Linked DNA regions of Homo sapiens: region 2 is reported to be linked to region 1. The links are microRNA targets in miRTarBase. Many come from high-throughput screens and were not tested one by one. Region 1 holds a microRNA gene; the other region holds the end of a gene's coding sequence.
The links. The annotated mature microRNA hsa-miR-6867-3p reads CUCUCCCUCUUUACCCACUAG and lies in region 1 at 3,269-3,289, shown strand. An mRNA with a match to its seed (bases 2 to 7 or 8) in the 3' UTR can be bound and repressed. Matches are read on the target gene's strand: a 7mer-m8 pairs with bases 2 to 8, a 7mer-A1 pairs with bases 2 to 7 and ends in A, and an 8mer does both.

Region 1 (7,168 bases):
TGGGATGTGTGAGGGTGCAGGCGGCAGGGGCCGAGGATGAGCAGCTCTTTCTCCTGCAGAGAAGGTCCTTCTCCAGCCCACTGAGGACTGTGTTTTCACCGCACTGGGCATCAACAGCCACCTGTTTGCCTGTACTCGGGACAGCTATGAGGCTCTGGTAAGAACTTCCCAAGGCCTTGACTGGAATGGAGGGCTGAGGAGGGCTGTGAGCAATCCCTCACCCTGCCACCAGGAGCCCAGCCCCTATGCCCCTGCCTGCCACCAGGTGCCCCTCCCCGAGGAGATCCAGGTCTCCCCTGGAGACACAGAGATCCACCGAGTGGAGCCTGAGGACGTTGCCAACCACCTAACTGCCTTCCACTGGGAGCTGTTCCGATGTGTGCATGAGGTGGGGACCGAGGCTGGTGCTATGCTGGGGGGCTGGAGGGAGAAATGTGCCATTGGGAGACGGTGTTCGCAGCACAACGTCCTGGTTCCAAGGCTCACTTGCAGCAAGCCCTTGGGCAACGCATGGCCGTAACCTTTGTTCCCCCATCTGAAAAAAATCGCAAAGAGAGAGACCCCAGAGCACAGTGGCTCAGGGCCCAAGTGCTGTTTACACAGAACCTGACCCAGGATTTCTATTTTTAAAATATTCACTATTAAAGAAATAAAATAAGGCAGAGACAATAATGCCTAGCAGATGGTTGTCTTGAGGATGTCAGCCGTGAGCGAATGCCTGGCACCTAGTAAGTGCTCAGTAGCTGGTGAAATATTATTAATGCTGGTTGTTTTCTTTTTCCGCATCTTTGCCGCCTCCTGTCCTTTCTATTTTTCTATTTTCCACCCCTTCCGCCCCCGCCCTCCTGCCTTTCGCTCCTCATCGCCTTGCACTGCCATCTTCCCACCCACTCCCCTCACCCCCTGGCGCCCTGGCCGCCCCTCCGCTGCCGTGGGTGCAGCTGGAGTTCGTGGACTACGTGTTCCACGGGGAGCGCGGCCGCCGGGAGACGGCCAACTTGGAGCTGCTGCTGCAGCGCTGCAGCGAGGTCACGCACTGGGTGGCCACCGAAGTGCTGCTCTGCGAGGCCCCGGGCAAGCGCGCGCAGCTGCTCAAGAAGTTCATCAAGATCGCGGCCCTGTGAGTGCGGCCGTCGGCGGGATGGGGGGCCGGAGGCCGGAGGCCCGCGCCGCCGCCCGCCCCTGACCCCGCCTCCCACCCCCGCAGCTGCAAGCAGAACCAGGACCTGCTGTCTTTCTACGCCGTGGTCATGGGGCTGGACAACGCCGCTGTCAGCCGCCTTCGACTCACCTGGGAGGTGATGAGACCCCTCCCGTTCCTACCTGGGAATCTGGGCATCCCGGGCTCCCCGAAGTGCGTCCTCCCGGGACGGCCGCCGGCCTGGAGGGAGTCTTTGCGCCAGTTGGAGGGAGGCGCCCTCTTCTGGCATACGCAACCCCAGGGCGCACAGCTTGGCTAATGGACCCTGTCTTTGTGCAAATTAGTGAAAAGCCCGGATCCCGCCTGAGTCACGGCAGGCAGCCCTTGGCCAGGTCAGGTCGCAGACTTGGCTGTGGGAGTTGGGCTGATTTTCATCCACACTCAGTGGGGGCATCTTTATACAAAGCACCTGCATAAGACAGACCTGGCCTTCCCCAGAATAATGAATTCCTCTGGGCTGTTTCAAGCCTCTAGACTTAGCCAAGGCCTGACTTCATTTCCCCACCCACCAGCTTCCCAGCCCCCTACAAGCCATGCAGGCCCTTTTGCCCTCCAACAGGGAGAATTAATCCGAGGCTCCCATGTAACCCAAGGAGCTCCACTCTGATATCCCTTCTCCTTCCTTCAAACTCTGCAGAAGCTGCCAGGGAAATTCAAGAACTTGTTTCGCAAATTTGAGAACCTGACGGTGAGTGGGTTTGGCTCTTTCTTCTGCTCTTGGACTGAGAGCCCAGAAACCCTCTGTTCCCATAAACCCCCTTCCTCAAGCTTTCCTTTCAAGGTGTTTAGTGTATGGGACCCCCCACCCTCCTTACCATGCTGGAGGGTGAGGTTGGAAGGATTGCGCCCCTGTTTTTCTTGAAGGAAAGGGGGAGTAGTCAGGTCCCTCCCCACCACACCATTAGAAAGCCCCCAGCACCCCTATCTGATCAGGAATGTATACAAGGCAGGGGGTGAGGGAGGAAGCTGAGGACATCTTTGGGATGCATTGGCCAGTCTGTCCCTTGATCTCTCTCCTGTGGAATACTAGGACCCCTGCAGGAACCACAAAAGCTACCGAGAAGTGATCTCCAAAATGAAGCCCCCTGTGATTCCCTTCGTGCCTCTGATCCTCAAAGGTGAGAGAGTTACTCCCAAGCTGTGCCGCTTCCACCCATGCTTCCCTTCTCCTATGCCCTGCTTCTGACTTCCAGCTCCCTCTCGACTCAGCCCTGAGTACCCACCTGGAGAGGAGCCCCCCACCACAGACGGAGTGGGTTCTGGGGAAGAGCGGGGTCCTCGGGTGCAGTGGCCCCTTTCGAACTCCTCTCTTATCCTTTCCTCACATTGGATTCTCTCCACATCCCCTAGACCTGACTTTCCTGCACGAAGGGAGTAAGACCCTTGTAGATGGTTTGGTGAACATCGAGAAGCTGGTGAGTGAGTGGCACTGCAAACCCCTAGTCCCACAAGTGGGGGGCTTGCATCCTCTCCCTCTCTCATCACCTCCCAAAAATAGCAGCCTTCCTCCAAGTGCCCAGCTTGCCTAACAGACTCTTGACTGTCTCCCTGGTGGCATCACTGTGGCAACCCACCCACAGGTGGCAGAGCTGACAGGCAGCTTGGGGGCAACTTCACCTCCCCCTCACATGGCACTCTGTTACACCCACTCCTTTGGTCCTTCAGAGACCCTCCAGAATTGGAGACTGGAGGGAGTAAAGCAGAGTGGGAGAATGGCGGAGGGGGAGCATAAGAGGGGGAGCCTCTTTCTGTGCCCCTTTCAAGGCTCATTCCTTGTCATCTCCCAGCATTCAGTGGCCGAAAAAGTGAGGACAATCCGCAAATACCGGAGCCGGCCCCTTTGTGAGTACCCAGGGTACTGAGAGCAGTACAGATAGAGCTTTGACTGAACGGGAGGGTTCAGGGGAGAACTCCCTGTCCAGATGTGTATTTCCATACACTTGCTGGTTCCCCATTCTCTCCTTGCCTCTGCAGAGGCCTTCCTGCCCAACATCTGTCTCAGTCCACAGCCTGATCTTCTGCCCGGTGTGTGTGTAGAGGAAGAAGGGAAGCTGGGAACCTGACTGCCTCTCCCTCTTTACCCACTAGGCCTGGACATGGAGGCATCCCCCAATCACCTGCAGACCAAGGCCTATGTGCGCCAGTTTCAGGTCATCGACAACCAGAACCTCCTCTTCGAGCTCTCCTACAAGCTGGAGGCAAACAGTCAGTGAGAGTGGAGGCTCCAGTCAGACCCGCCAGATCCTTGGGCACCTGGCACTCAAGCACTTTGCACGATGTCTCAACCAACATCTGACATCTTTCCCGTGGAGCAACTTCCTGCTCCACGGGAAAGAGGTCGATGGATTTACCCCTGGACCCATAAGTCTGTTCATCCTGCTGAAGTCCCCTCCCCATTGCTCCTTCAAGCCAAAACTACACTTTGCTGGTTCCTGTCCCCTCTGAGAAAGGGGATAGAAAGCTCCTTCCTCTATGTCCTCCCATCGAGATCTGTTCTGGGGATGGAGCTTCCAACTTCCTCTTGCAGCAGGAAAGAATGCTGCTCACCCTTCTGTCTTGCAGAGTGGGATTGTGGGAGGGATTGGCAGCCTTCTTCTCCACCACCTGTCCAGCTTCTTCCTGGTCAGGGCTGGGACCCCCAGGAATATTATGTTGCCGTGTGTGTGTGTGTGTGTGTGTGTGTGTGTGTGTGTGTGTGTGTGTGTGTGTGTGTGTCTTCTTTTAGGGAGCAGGAGTGCATCTGGTAATTGAGGGTGGATGTTGTGTGTGCTGGGGAGGGGTCCTTCTGTTTGGTGCTACCCTTGTCTACTCTGCCCCTGGATGGTGCGGGGTGCTTTCTCCACCCCCACACTCCCTGCTCAGCTCCTCGTGCTGCCCTGCATGCCCAGGCTTGTGAGCCAAGCTGCTTTTTGGGGCAGGGAGTAGCAGCAGGTGGGAGGGGTTACCCATCAGCCCTTGCAAGTCCCCCACTCAGGCCTCTGGAAGGTCCAGGGATGGGCTCTGATGAGAGGGTAAAAGATGCTCAGGGAAACACAGGCCTCAGCTGCCTAGAGGACCCTCCCCCTGCCTTGCAGTGGGCTCGGGTAGAGCAGTATCAGGAGCTAGGGTTGTCTGCTGCCCACACTCCTGCTTTTTGGGATATCTAACTGCTAAGGAGGGAGTTGACATCCCCCTTCTGGCTCATGTGTCTGACACCAACAACATGGTCTCTGTCCCTCTCTCTTTGACTCTCCCTTTGTCCTCCCCATAGAGCTGGGGTGGGGTGGATCCCTATACCTGGGGCAGGCAGCCCCAAAGTGGGGGAGGGGGATGGCAGAGACTGTAAAGGCGCCACTGGACTCTGGCAAGGCCTTTATTACCTTTACTCCCCTCCCTCTCCCATCACCAGCCTCAAGGCCTGAGGGGTGCAGGGGCTCCTGGCAGCTACTGGGTGAGGTTTCCTGGCACAGACTCACCCTTCTTTCTGGCACCACCTCTTTCCCTTTTGAAGAGACAGCAACAGCCGTAGCAAAAGCAGCTGCTGCTCCTGCTATGAGGGTGTATATATTTTTTACCCAAAGCTCTGGAATTGTACATTTATTTTTTAAAACTCAAAGAGGGAAAGAGCCTTGTATCATATGTGAACATTGTATCATAGGTAATGTTGTACAGACCCTTTTATACAGTGATCTGTCTTGTTCCTGCAGCAAAAATCCTCTATGGACATAGGAGGTGCTGTGTCCCATGCCCTCTTGCCCTGACAGTGTCCCATGGGCCCCCTTCTGCTCCCTGCCCCCTCCCTGCTACTGCTGATGCACTCTCCTCTCCCTGCAGCCCCTGGCTTCCCAGCCTTCCTCCTGACCCCTTCCAACAGCCTTGGAACTCCAGCTGCCACCACCCTCTGGGTCGGACACTGGGACCCACTGGCCCAGTCTTGGCTGCTGCTTACCCCTAGCCTTGATGCCTGCCCAGGGACCCCCAGCCCCCTCCCGTTGCCCTGCAGCTTTAACAGAGTGAACCATGTGTATTGTACAGGCGCGGTTGTCATTGCAGAAACCGCTGGGTGGAGAAGAAGCCGATAAAGTCTATGAATCAACCTGCCTGTTGTTCTCCATTCTGTTTTCTTTGAGGCTGTGGAAGTGCTGAGGGAGGGGAGAGGGGATGGCCGCCCAGTGCTGTCAGGAGCAGGGCTGTTCTGGAGTGACTTTGAAAATGTGGGTGGCGGGGTACAGTGGCTCATGCTTGTAATCCCAGCACTTTGGGAGGCCGAGGCGGGCAGATCACCTGAGGGCGGGAGTTCGAGACCAGCCTGGCCAACATGGTGAAACCCTGTCTCTACTAAAAATACAAAAATTAGCCAGGTGTGGTGGTGCATGCCTGTAATCCCAGCTACTTGGGAGGCTGAGTCAGGAGAGTAGCTTGAACTCAGGAGGCGGAGGTTGCAAGGCGCAGTGGCTCTCCAGCCTGGGCAACAGAGCAAGACTCTGCCAAAAAAGAAAATGTGGATGAGAGGAAAAGATGCCAACCTCACAAGACATGTCACATAATGCCTGGAACTCAGAAGAGGGGATGGGATGTTTTCGTTCATACATGTTCCAGGTGGCATAAATATGAGATCACATTTAATTCTAATGCTAAGGTAGAAGATTGAGGCACAGCAGTCCCAGAATAATTACTAGTGAGGGCACTGGTCCCCTAACCCAGGTCTGTCCCCTGAAGACAGCATGTACTGTTCACACAACCAATATTTACCAGTTCTACTAAGTTTTGTTTTGTTTTGTTTTTTTTGAGACGGAGTCTTGCTCTGTTGCCCAGGCTGGAGTGCAGTGGCGTGATGTCTGCTCACTGCAAGCTCTGCCTCCCAGGTTCATGCCATTCTCCTGCCTCAGCCTCCCAAGTAGCTGGGACTACAGGTGCCCACCACCATGCCGGGCTAATTTTTTTTTTAATATTTTTAGTAGAGATGAGGTTTCACTGTGTTAGCCAGGATGGTCTGGATCTCCTGACCTCGTGATCTGCCCACCTCGGCCTCCCAAAGTGCTGGGATTACAGGCTTGAGCCACTGCGCCTGGCCCAATCCTACTAAGATTATAGGGTGCAGAGAGCCTAGCGTTAGGCTTAAATGATAGCCTGAGTTCCAGGAGACATCATACACTCAAATAGCTATACCTGGGCCCTTGATAATCCCCATTCACATCTGTTTCTGCCTCAGTCTTCTGCATCTCAGAAAAATGATCCTCTCATCCACCCAGGTTTTCTCTCTCTGTTGCCCAAGCTGGAGTGCAGTGGCGTAATCTTGGCTCACTGCAACCTCTGCCTCCCAGGTTCAAGTGATCCTCCTGCCTCAGCCTCCTGAGTAGCTGGGATTATAGGCAGAGGCCACCACACCCGGCTAATTTTTGTATTTTTAGTAGAGATGGGGTTTCACCATGTTGGTCAGGTTGGTCTCAAACTCCTGACCTCAAGTGATCCACCCACCTCAGTCTTCCAAAGTGCTGGGATTACAGCTGTGAGCCACTGCCCAGCCACCTACCCAAGTTTTCAAGGCAAAAATACAGGACTCACCATTGGTGCCTCTTTCTCCCACCCTTCATTCATCTCAGCCAGTCCCATCGGCTACAATTCCAGAGCATTTTCTGAGTGATCCACTTCTGTATGACTCCCCTATGACCATACTAGTCCAAACCACCTTCATAGCTTCCCTGCATGACTACTGCAGCCTCCTACCTGGTCTGTCAGCTTCCTCTCTTTGATCCACCCCTACCTGCCACCAGTTTGATTTCCACATGGCAGCCAGGGTGTTCTTTCAGAAACACCAATCACGCTGGGCATGGTGGCTCAAGCCCATAATCCTAGCACTTCGGGAGGCTGAGGCAGGAGGATCGCTTGAGCCCAGGAGTTCAAGACCAGCTTGGGCAACATAGTGAGACCCTGTCTCTACAAAAAATAAAAAATTAACGAGGCTGCAGTGAGCTGCGATAGCACCAC
Region 2 (7,093 bases), not on the chromosome of region 1:
CACCCAGCTAATTTTTTTGTATTTTTAGCAGAGATGGGGTTTCACTGTGTTGGCCAGGATGGTCTCGATTTCCTGGACCTTGTGATCCGTCCGCCTCAGCCTCCCAAAGTGCTAGGATTACAGGCATGAGCCACTGCGCCCTGCTGAGACAGGGTCTTTTAATTTTTATTTATTTTATTATTCTGAGACAGGGTTTCCTTCTATTGCCCAGGCTGAAGTGCAGTGGCGTAATCATAGCTCACTGCAGCCTCAAATTCCCAGGTTCCAGTGATCCCCTTGCCTCAGCCTTCCAAGTAGCTGGGACCACAGGCATGCACCACTATGCCAGGCTAATTGTTTCATTTTTATGTTTTGCAGAGATGAGGGTCTCACTATGTTGCCCAGGCTGGTTTCAAACTCCTGGCCTCAAGCACTCCTCCTTCCTTGGCCTCCCAAAGGGCTTTAATTATAGGCGTGAACCACGGTGCCCAGCCTTTTCCTCTTTTTTTTTTTTTTTTGAGACGGTATCTCACTCTGTCACCTAGGCTGGAGTGCACTGGTGCAATCTAGGTTCACTGCAACCTCTGCCTCCCGGGTTCAAGCAATTCTCCTGCCTCCGCCTCCCGAGTAGCTGGCAGTACAGGTGCATGCCACCACACCTGGCTGATTTTTTTTTTGTATTTTAGTAGAGACGGGGTTTCACCGTGTTGCCCAGGCTGGTCTTGAACTCCTGAGCTCAGACAATCCGCCTGCCTCGGCCTCCCAAAGTGCTGAGATTACAGGCGTGAGCCACCGTGCCCGGCGCCTTTTCCTCTTCTTATAAAAGCTTCCAGTTCTACTCCTATGATAACCCGTTAAATCTATTAACCCACTAATCCATTAATCCATGAGTGAATGAATCTATTCATGAGGGCAGGGCCCTCATGACCCAATTACCTTTTAAAGGCCCTACCTCTCACTACTGCCACATTGGGGATTAAATTTCAACATGAGTTTTGGAGCGGACATTCAAACCAAAGAACCCATAGTCTTTGCTTCTTTATTAAGGAGCTGTCGCCATGTCAATAAATTTAGCTTTGAGGTTAGAACAAGCAAGTAGCTCCCTGTGGAGGAAACCATAAGAAAACTTCCATTTCCTCTTTGATTACGACTGAACTAGACTTAAGATCAGTCTCTGCGCCAGGCGCAGTGGTTCATGCCTGTAGTCCCAGCTACTCGGGAGGCTGAGACAAGAAGATCACTTCAGCCCAGGAGTTTGAGCCTGCAGTGAGCTATGATTGCGCCACTGCACTCCAGCCTGGGCAACAGAGTGAGACTCTGTCTCTAAAAAATAATAACAAATGAAAAGATCAGCGGTTGGAGTTTCTTTTTAATCCAGGCATTCTGTCAACATGCCAGTTCTGAATGGTCACTTTAAGGAAGTGCTGAGTCACCTATGTTTCCTAAGAAGGCAGCCTAGTAATGGAAAAAAAAAAAAAAAAGTGATGAAACCCAAGTTTTAGCCTCAAGTAATTACCTGAGAAAATGAGTCTAACTCATAAAATGAGACGGGAAATGCAGTTAAAATTCATAAAGCAAAAATAAGTTGTTGAAAAGTAGGTAAATTAAAAACTCAAGATACAAGGTTAGCAAAATTAACTTTATTATTATTTATTTGAAACGGGGTATTGCTCTGTTGTCCTGGCTGGAGTACAGTGGTGTGATCTTGGCTCACTGCAACTTCCGCCTCCTGGACTTAAGCGATCCTCTCACCTCAGCCTCCAGAAACTTTAAAACAAGTTCACACATACTGATTAATCTAAACTCACCCTCTCCATTTCTGCCTAATTATTCCCAATAAGGTATTACTAACAATTAAGATATTAGTAGCTGTGGCAGCCGGGCCCAGTGCTTATGCCTGTGATCCCAGCACTTTGGGAGGCCAAGGCAGGCAGATCACTGGAGGTTGGGAGTTTGAGACCAGCCTGACCAACGTGGTGAAACCCCGTCTCTACTAAAGTACAAAATTAGCCGGGTGTGGTAGCACGCACCTGTAATCCCAGCTACTTGGGAGGCTGAGGCAGAATCGCTTGAACCTGGGAGGAGGAGGTTGTGGTGAGCAGAGATTGCACCATTGCACTGCAGCCTGGGCAACAAGAGCGAAACTCCATCTTCCAAAAACAAACAAACAAACAAAAATATATATATATACACACACTATATATATATACACATATATATATATACACACACTATATATATACACACTATATATATACACTATATATATATACACTATATGTATATACACTATATATATATACACACTATATATATATATACACTATATATATATGTAGCTGTGATGGCTCCTTAGCATGAAAGTATGACCTTGAAATCTTAGACTTGTCATTTACATATTTAAACTCCATTATTCTTTTTTTCTTTTTTTAAGACAGGGTCTTGCTCTGTTGTCCAAGCTAGAGTGCAGTGGCTTGATCACAGCTCACTGTAGCCTTTAACCTCCTGGGTTCAAGCAATCCTCCCACCTCAGCCTCCAGAGTAGCTGGGACCACAGGTGCACATCACCATATGCCTAGCTAAATTTTTTAATTTTTGGTGGAGGCGAGGTCTCCCTATGTTGCCCAGGCTGGGATCCTGTTTTTCTTTTTCTTTTCTTTTGAGACAGTCTTGCTCTGTCACCTAGGCTGGAGTGCAGTGGTACAATTTCAGCTCACTGCAACCTCTGCCTCCTGGTTTCAAACGATTCTCATGCCTCAGCCTCTGGAGTAGCTGGGATTACAGGTGTGTACCACTATGCCCGACTAATTTTTGTATTTTTAGTAGAGACAGGGTTTCACCATGTTGGCCAGGCTGGTCTTGAACTCCCGGCCTCAAGTGATCCTCCCACCTCGGCCTCCCAAAGTGCTGGGATTATAGGCTTGAGTCACCGCCTCCGGTGGATCCTGTTTTCTTGACTGTATTTCAGGTTTATGCAGACCAGGTAGGTTTGTGTGTGTGAAACACCCATGAACAGTGCAGGTACAATGTGTTTAACAAAGGGTAGCTCTTACTAAAAAGGCAGCCCTGACCTTTACACAGACAGATGTTGATATTTTAGGGCAAAGAAACATTTGTGTGGTATCAAACAGTGGCTACCAACTCCAGCCCATGGATAACTGATAAAAGCTTTTAACAATTAGCCTCCAAAATAAGAAAAATATGAACAAAATAGTGAATTTTTCATAAAATTAACACTTTTCATACGCTTATTCAAACTGATGGCTATTTTTGTCCACTATTCCCATGTTCTTTTTCACTCTTCTGGTGTCAAACTGTCTTTTACGAAATACTGGTAATAAATTGTAGCTTTTTGATATACTCCTGCTTGGAAAAATCAAAAGTTGGCAATTGCATACTAGCCACCCCTATCCTGCTTTTAAAATGTTGCTAGTATGAAAACAACGACTGGGAACCAGTGTTCTAGAGAGGGAGACTTGTTAGAAATGAGAAAGGCCTTAGGAGACCCGCAGCTCTCTGGAAAACAGGCTTAAATAAATTGGAATCATCCCGGGGACACTTTCCAAAATTATCCATACTCAACCTCCTAAAAGTATTGAATTAGAAAACTGCTGTGCTACAGAAAAAATGAGGGATAAACCAAGAAGGAAGAGGATAGGAAATCCAGAAACAAGACGTCCAATACAGGAGGGTGGCAACAGAAAGTCCCGAGGACTGCAGTGTGCACCAGGTCTAGGCAACAACTAGGCAGGAGAGGTGTATGGGGAGAAGGTAAACTGGTCACTCCAGGAAGACACCACCTGTATATTAAAAGGGACGCAATCACAGTGCATTAACCTGTGCAGTGAGCAATAGTATTCTCCCAGGCAGTGTCCCAGCAAGCCAGATAGCACTCTTGAGAGGAAGCAGTAGCCCAGAGCCAGTAACAGAAATACCACCACCCCTGGGCCCAAAAGGGCAGGGTGAAGGACAGGTTAGGAAAAATAAAAGAAGTCAGGTGGAGTTGGCTGCCTGGAGTGTTCCTTGAGGCACAGTGACTTCTGGCTGAGGAACAGTTGGCCTGAGGTGACCTTGCAGAGAGAGGGCCAAGGGAATAAACACTCTGCCTTCATTCTCCTCCCTCCAGCCATCTCCTGCTATGGATCGCTATTGGCCAAACCCAGCAGAACCCAGAGACATGGGAAGTCTGTTGATGTCTATACAGCTTCCTTGGGCTGAAAGCAGGATGAGGGGAGCAGAGACTTGGGAGGGGCAAATGAAAGACACCTGGCACACTCATGCTATGAACACTGATGATGTAAGCAAAATTTACAAAAGCACTTGGGAGGATGTGTGGGAGGAGCAGAGGCAGTGTAAGATAGCGGCATCTCAACCATTATGGGAAACAATGTCTGAAGTTGATGGCTCAAAATATAACAGTATAGCCAGGCAGTGGCTCATGCCTGTAATCCCGACACTTTGGGAGGCTGAGGCAAGAGGATCACTTTGAGGCCAGGAGTTTGAGACTCGCTTGGGCAACAGAGCAAGACCCCGTCTCTACAAAAAATTAGCCAGGCGTGGTGGCACACACCTGTAGTCCTAGCAATTCAGGAGGCTGAGGTGGGAGGATCACTTGAGCCCAGGAGTTGGAGGCTGTAGTGAGCTATGATGATGCCGCTGCACTCCAGCACCTGGGTGACAGTGAGACCCTGTCTCAAAAAATAAAATGTTTATATTTTTATATTTTTATAATTTATTTATAAATATGGAGATAAATTTAAAAAGCCCACAGCTCAGTAGGTAAAACCTTTGAGGAGCAAAGAAGTAGGGACAATTAGAAACGTTGCAATATTACTTAATTTTTAAAAGATGATGTGTGGGCCAGGTGCAGTAGTAGCTCATGCCTGTAATCCCAGCACTTTGGGAAGCCAAAGTGGAGGATCGCTTGAGCCCAGGAGATCGAGATCAGCCCAGGCAACATGACGAAACCCTGTCTCTATAAAAAAAATTACAAAAAACATTAGCTGGGCATGGTGGTGTGCACCTGTAGTCCCAGCTACTTGAGAGGCTAAGGTGAGAGGATCACTTCAGGACTGCAGGTCGAGGCCATAGAGAGCCGTGATCATGCTGCTGCACTCCAGCTTGAGTGACAGAGTGAGACCCTGTCTCAAAAACATAAATAAATAAAAATGATGTGCATATTTAAGAACAAATTAATTTTCAAAAAGTTGCTAGAAGGTTACACACAAAATCAACTGGGGCGGACTCTGGATGCACTGCCTATGAATTAGCCTTGCTCCACAAGGAGCAGCACTGTTCAGGAAAAGACTACTGTCTAACAAAAACAAACCATACAACAACAACAACAAAAAAACAATTGGTTACCTCTGTGGAGCTGGAATAAGGGAATGAGAGTTGAGAAAAAACATTCGCTTTTCATTTAGGATCCTCTTGCATTGTTGTACTGTAAATATCTGTTATTTTTATAATAGTATTTATACCTTAAAAAAGTTTATTTGCTAATGAGAATTTATCTTATCCCTCAGGTGGCTTTGGACAGAAAAGCTGAGACCTGCTGATTTACATGATTTATATCAAATAAAGCCCAAGGTAAATCAGTGACTTGACCAGCCACAGAACTTAATAGAGCCTGAGTTAGGACCCAGACTTCATTAGGGACCCAAGGGCAGGAGTTCCTTTTAATCTTTCCCAGCTTCAGAGTGAATACAAAAAATATATAAGGATGCATCTCATCATCTTTGAATATTTATAGGTCCCTACACTGAATTTTCAAAGCCCAAGATAAAAATCACATAGCGGCCCAGGTCCAGACCCAGGCCCAGCCAGCCATATGAGTGAGCCCAGAACAGCAAAGAACTGCCCAGTCGAGTCACTGCTGCTGAAAACCACTAAATTTTGGAGTGTCTTGTTACGCAACAATAGTAATTGTTGTCCCACCACTACACAGATGCCATCACAACATCCAAATTCTGCCTTCTGACGTGGTGAAAAATTTCCCTTTTGAATATTTCAATAGACTTTAAAAGAAAATGAACTACCAGTTAAACTGAATGTTTAATACATTTGTAGGAACAGAAGAAATGCAGTAAGGATTAAAATTTTATAATTAGACATTAATGTAACAGATGTTTCATTTTTCAAAGAAGTTTCCCCCTTTTCCCTATCTTTTTTTAATCTTCCTTAGAGCAATAAATAGTAATTACTATATTTGTGGACAAGCTGCTCCACTGTGTTGGACAGTAATTATTAAATCTTTATGTTTCACATCATTATTACCTCCCAAAATTCTACCTTCATTTCCCTGCACAGTTTCACTGGACTGTTTCACAACAAAATTGTACTCCACTCAAATTAGAAGAGCCCAAAGAAATTAGAGCAAACAGCAAATTCATATGAATTAGAGAACCAAAGATTTTAAAGTGCTGATTTAGTAACATAATGTCTACTGGCACAAACCTTCTATTTAATCATATTATTCAAACAGCAATAACAGAAATGAAAGCTACATTAACGAAAAAGGAACTTAGGAATGAGGTCATTAAATATAACTAACTACATTTTAAATACGGATATCATATATTTCCTGATTAGTATCAGGTAAATATCTAGACTCCTATCCTGAATTCCGGTCTCAGATAAAAAGGTCAGAGACAATTACAAGGAAGATGCTTCATATTATCAGGTCCATTTTTTAAATGATGGGGTCCTTTAGGAAAATTTCTTTAGTCTTTCTTTTTATCACAGATTTCTGTTGGTCCTTTTGTTGGTAATCCATTCATGTCTGCACCCTAAAATGAAAAAACATTTTAGAAATTATCATAACAAGCCGGGTGCGGTGGCTTATGCCTGTAATCCCAGCACTTTGGGAGGCTGAGGCAGGCAGATCACGAGGTCAGAAGATCGAGACCATCCTGGCTGACATGGTGAAACCCCGTCCCTACTAAAAATACAAAAATTAGCTGGGTATGGTAGCATGTGCCTATAATCCCAGCTACTCAGGAGGCTGAGGCAGGAGAATCGTTTGAACCTGGGAGACGGAAGTTGTGGTGAGCCAAGATTATGCCACTGCACTCTAGCCTGGTGACAAAGCGAGACTTCATCACAAAAACAAAAA

Region 2: miRTarBase lists C18orf32 as a target of hsa-miR-6867-3p. Seed matches in the 3' UTR shown: 7mer-A1 at 3,837-3,843 and 7mer-m8 at 2,590-2,596.

Annotation. Positions count from the first base shown.
Region 1 is chr17:40,190,375-40,197,542 of GRCh38, forward strand. It overlaps MIR6867 (microRNA 6867), which reads left to right and starts at 3,223; the gene lies at 3,223-3,289. It overlaps RAPGEFL1 (Rap guanine nucleotide exchange factor like 1), which reads left to right. Exons shown (of 15, transcript NM_016339.6): 7 at 60-157; 8 at 266-388; 9 at 942-1,120; 10 at 1,208-1,298; 11 at 1,839-1,889; 12 at 2,232-2,319; 13 at 2,552-2,616; 14 at 2,989-3,043; 15 at 3,290-5,276. The coding sequence ends at 3,414. RefSeq lists a silencer at 1,108-1,167 and enhancers at 1,288-1,367, 4,069-4,569, 4,194-4,243.
Region 2 is chr18:49,475,644-49,482,736 of GRCh38, forward strand. C18orf32 (chromosome 18 open reading frame 32) reads right to left here. Exons shown (of 3, transcript NM_001035005.4): 3 at 1,600-6,767. The coding sequence ends at 6,702. It overlaps RPL17-C18orf32 (RPL17-C18orf32 readthrough), which reads right to left. Exons shown (of 7, transcript NM_001199356.2): 7 at 5,535-6,767. Among named protein-coding and RNA genes, the nearest start is that of C18orf32, 8.0 kb to the right of the region's middle.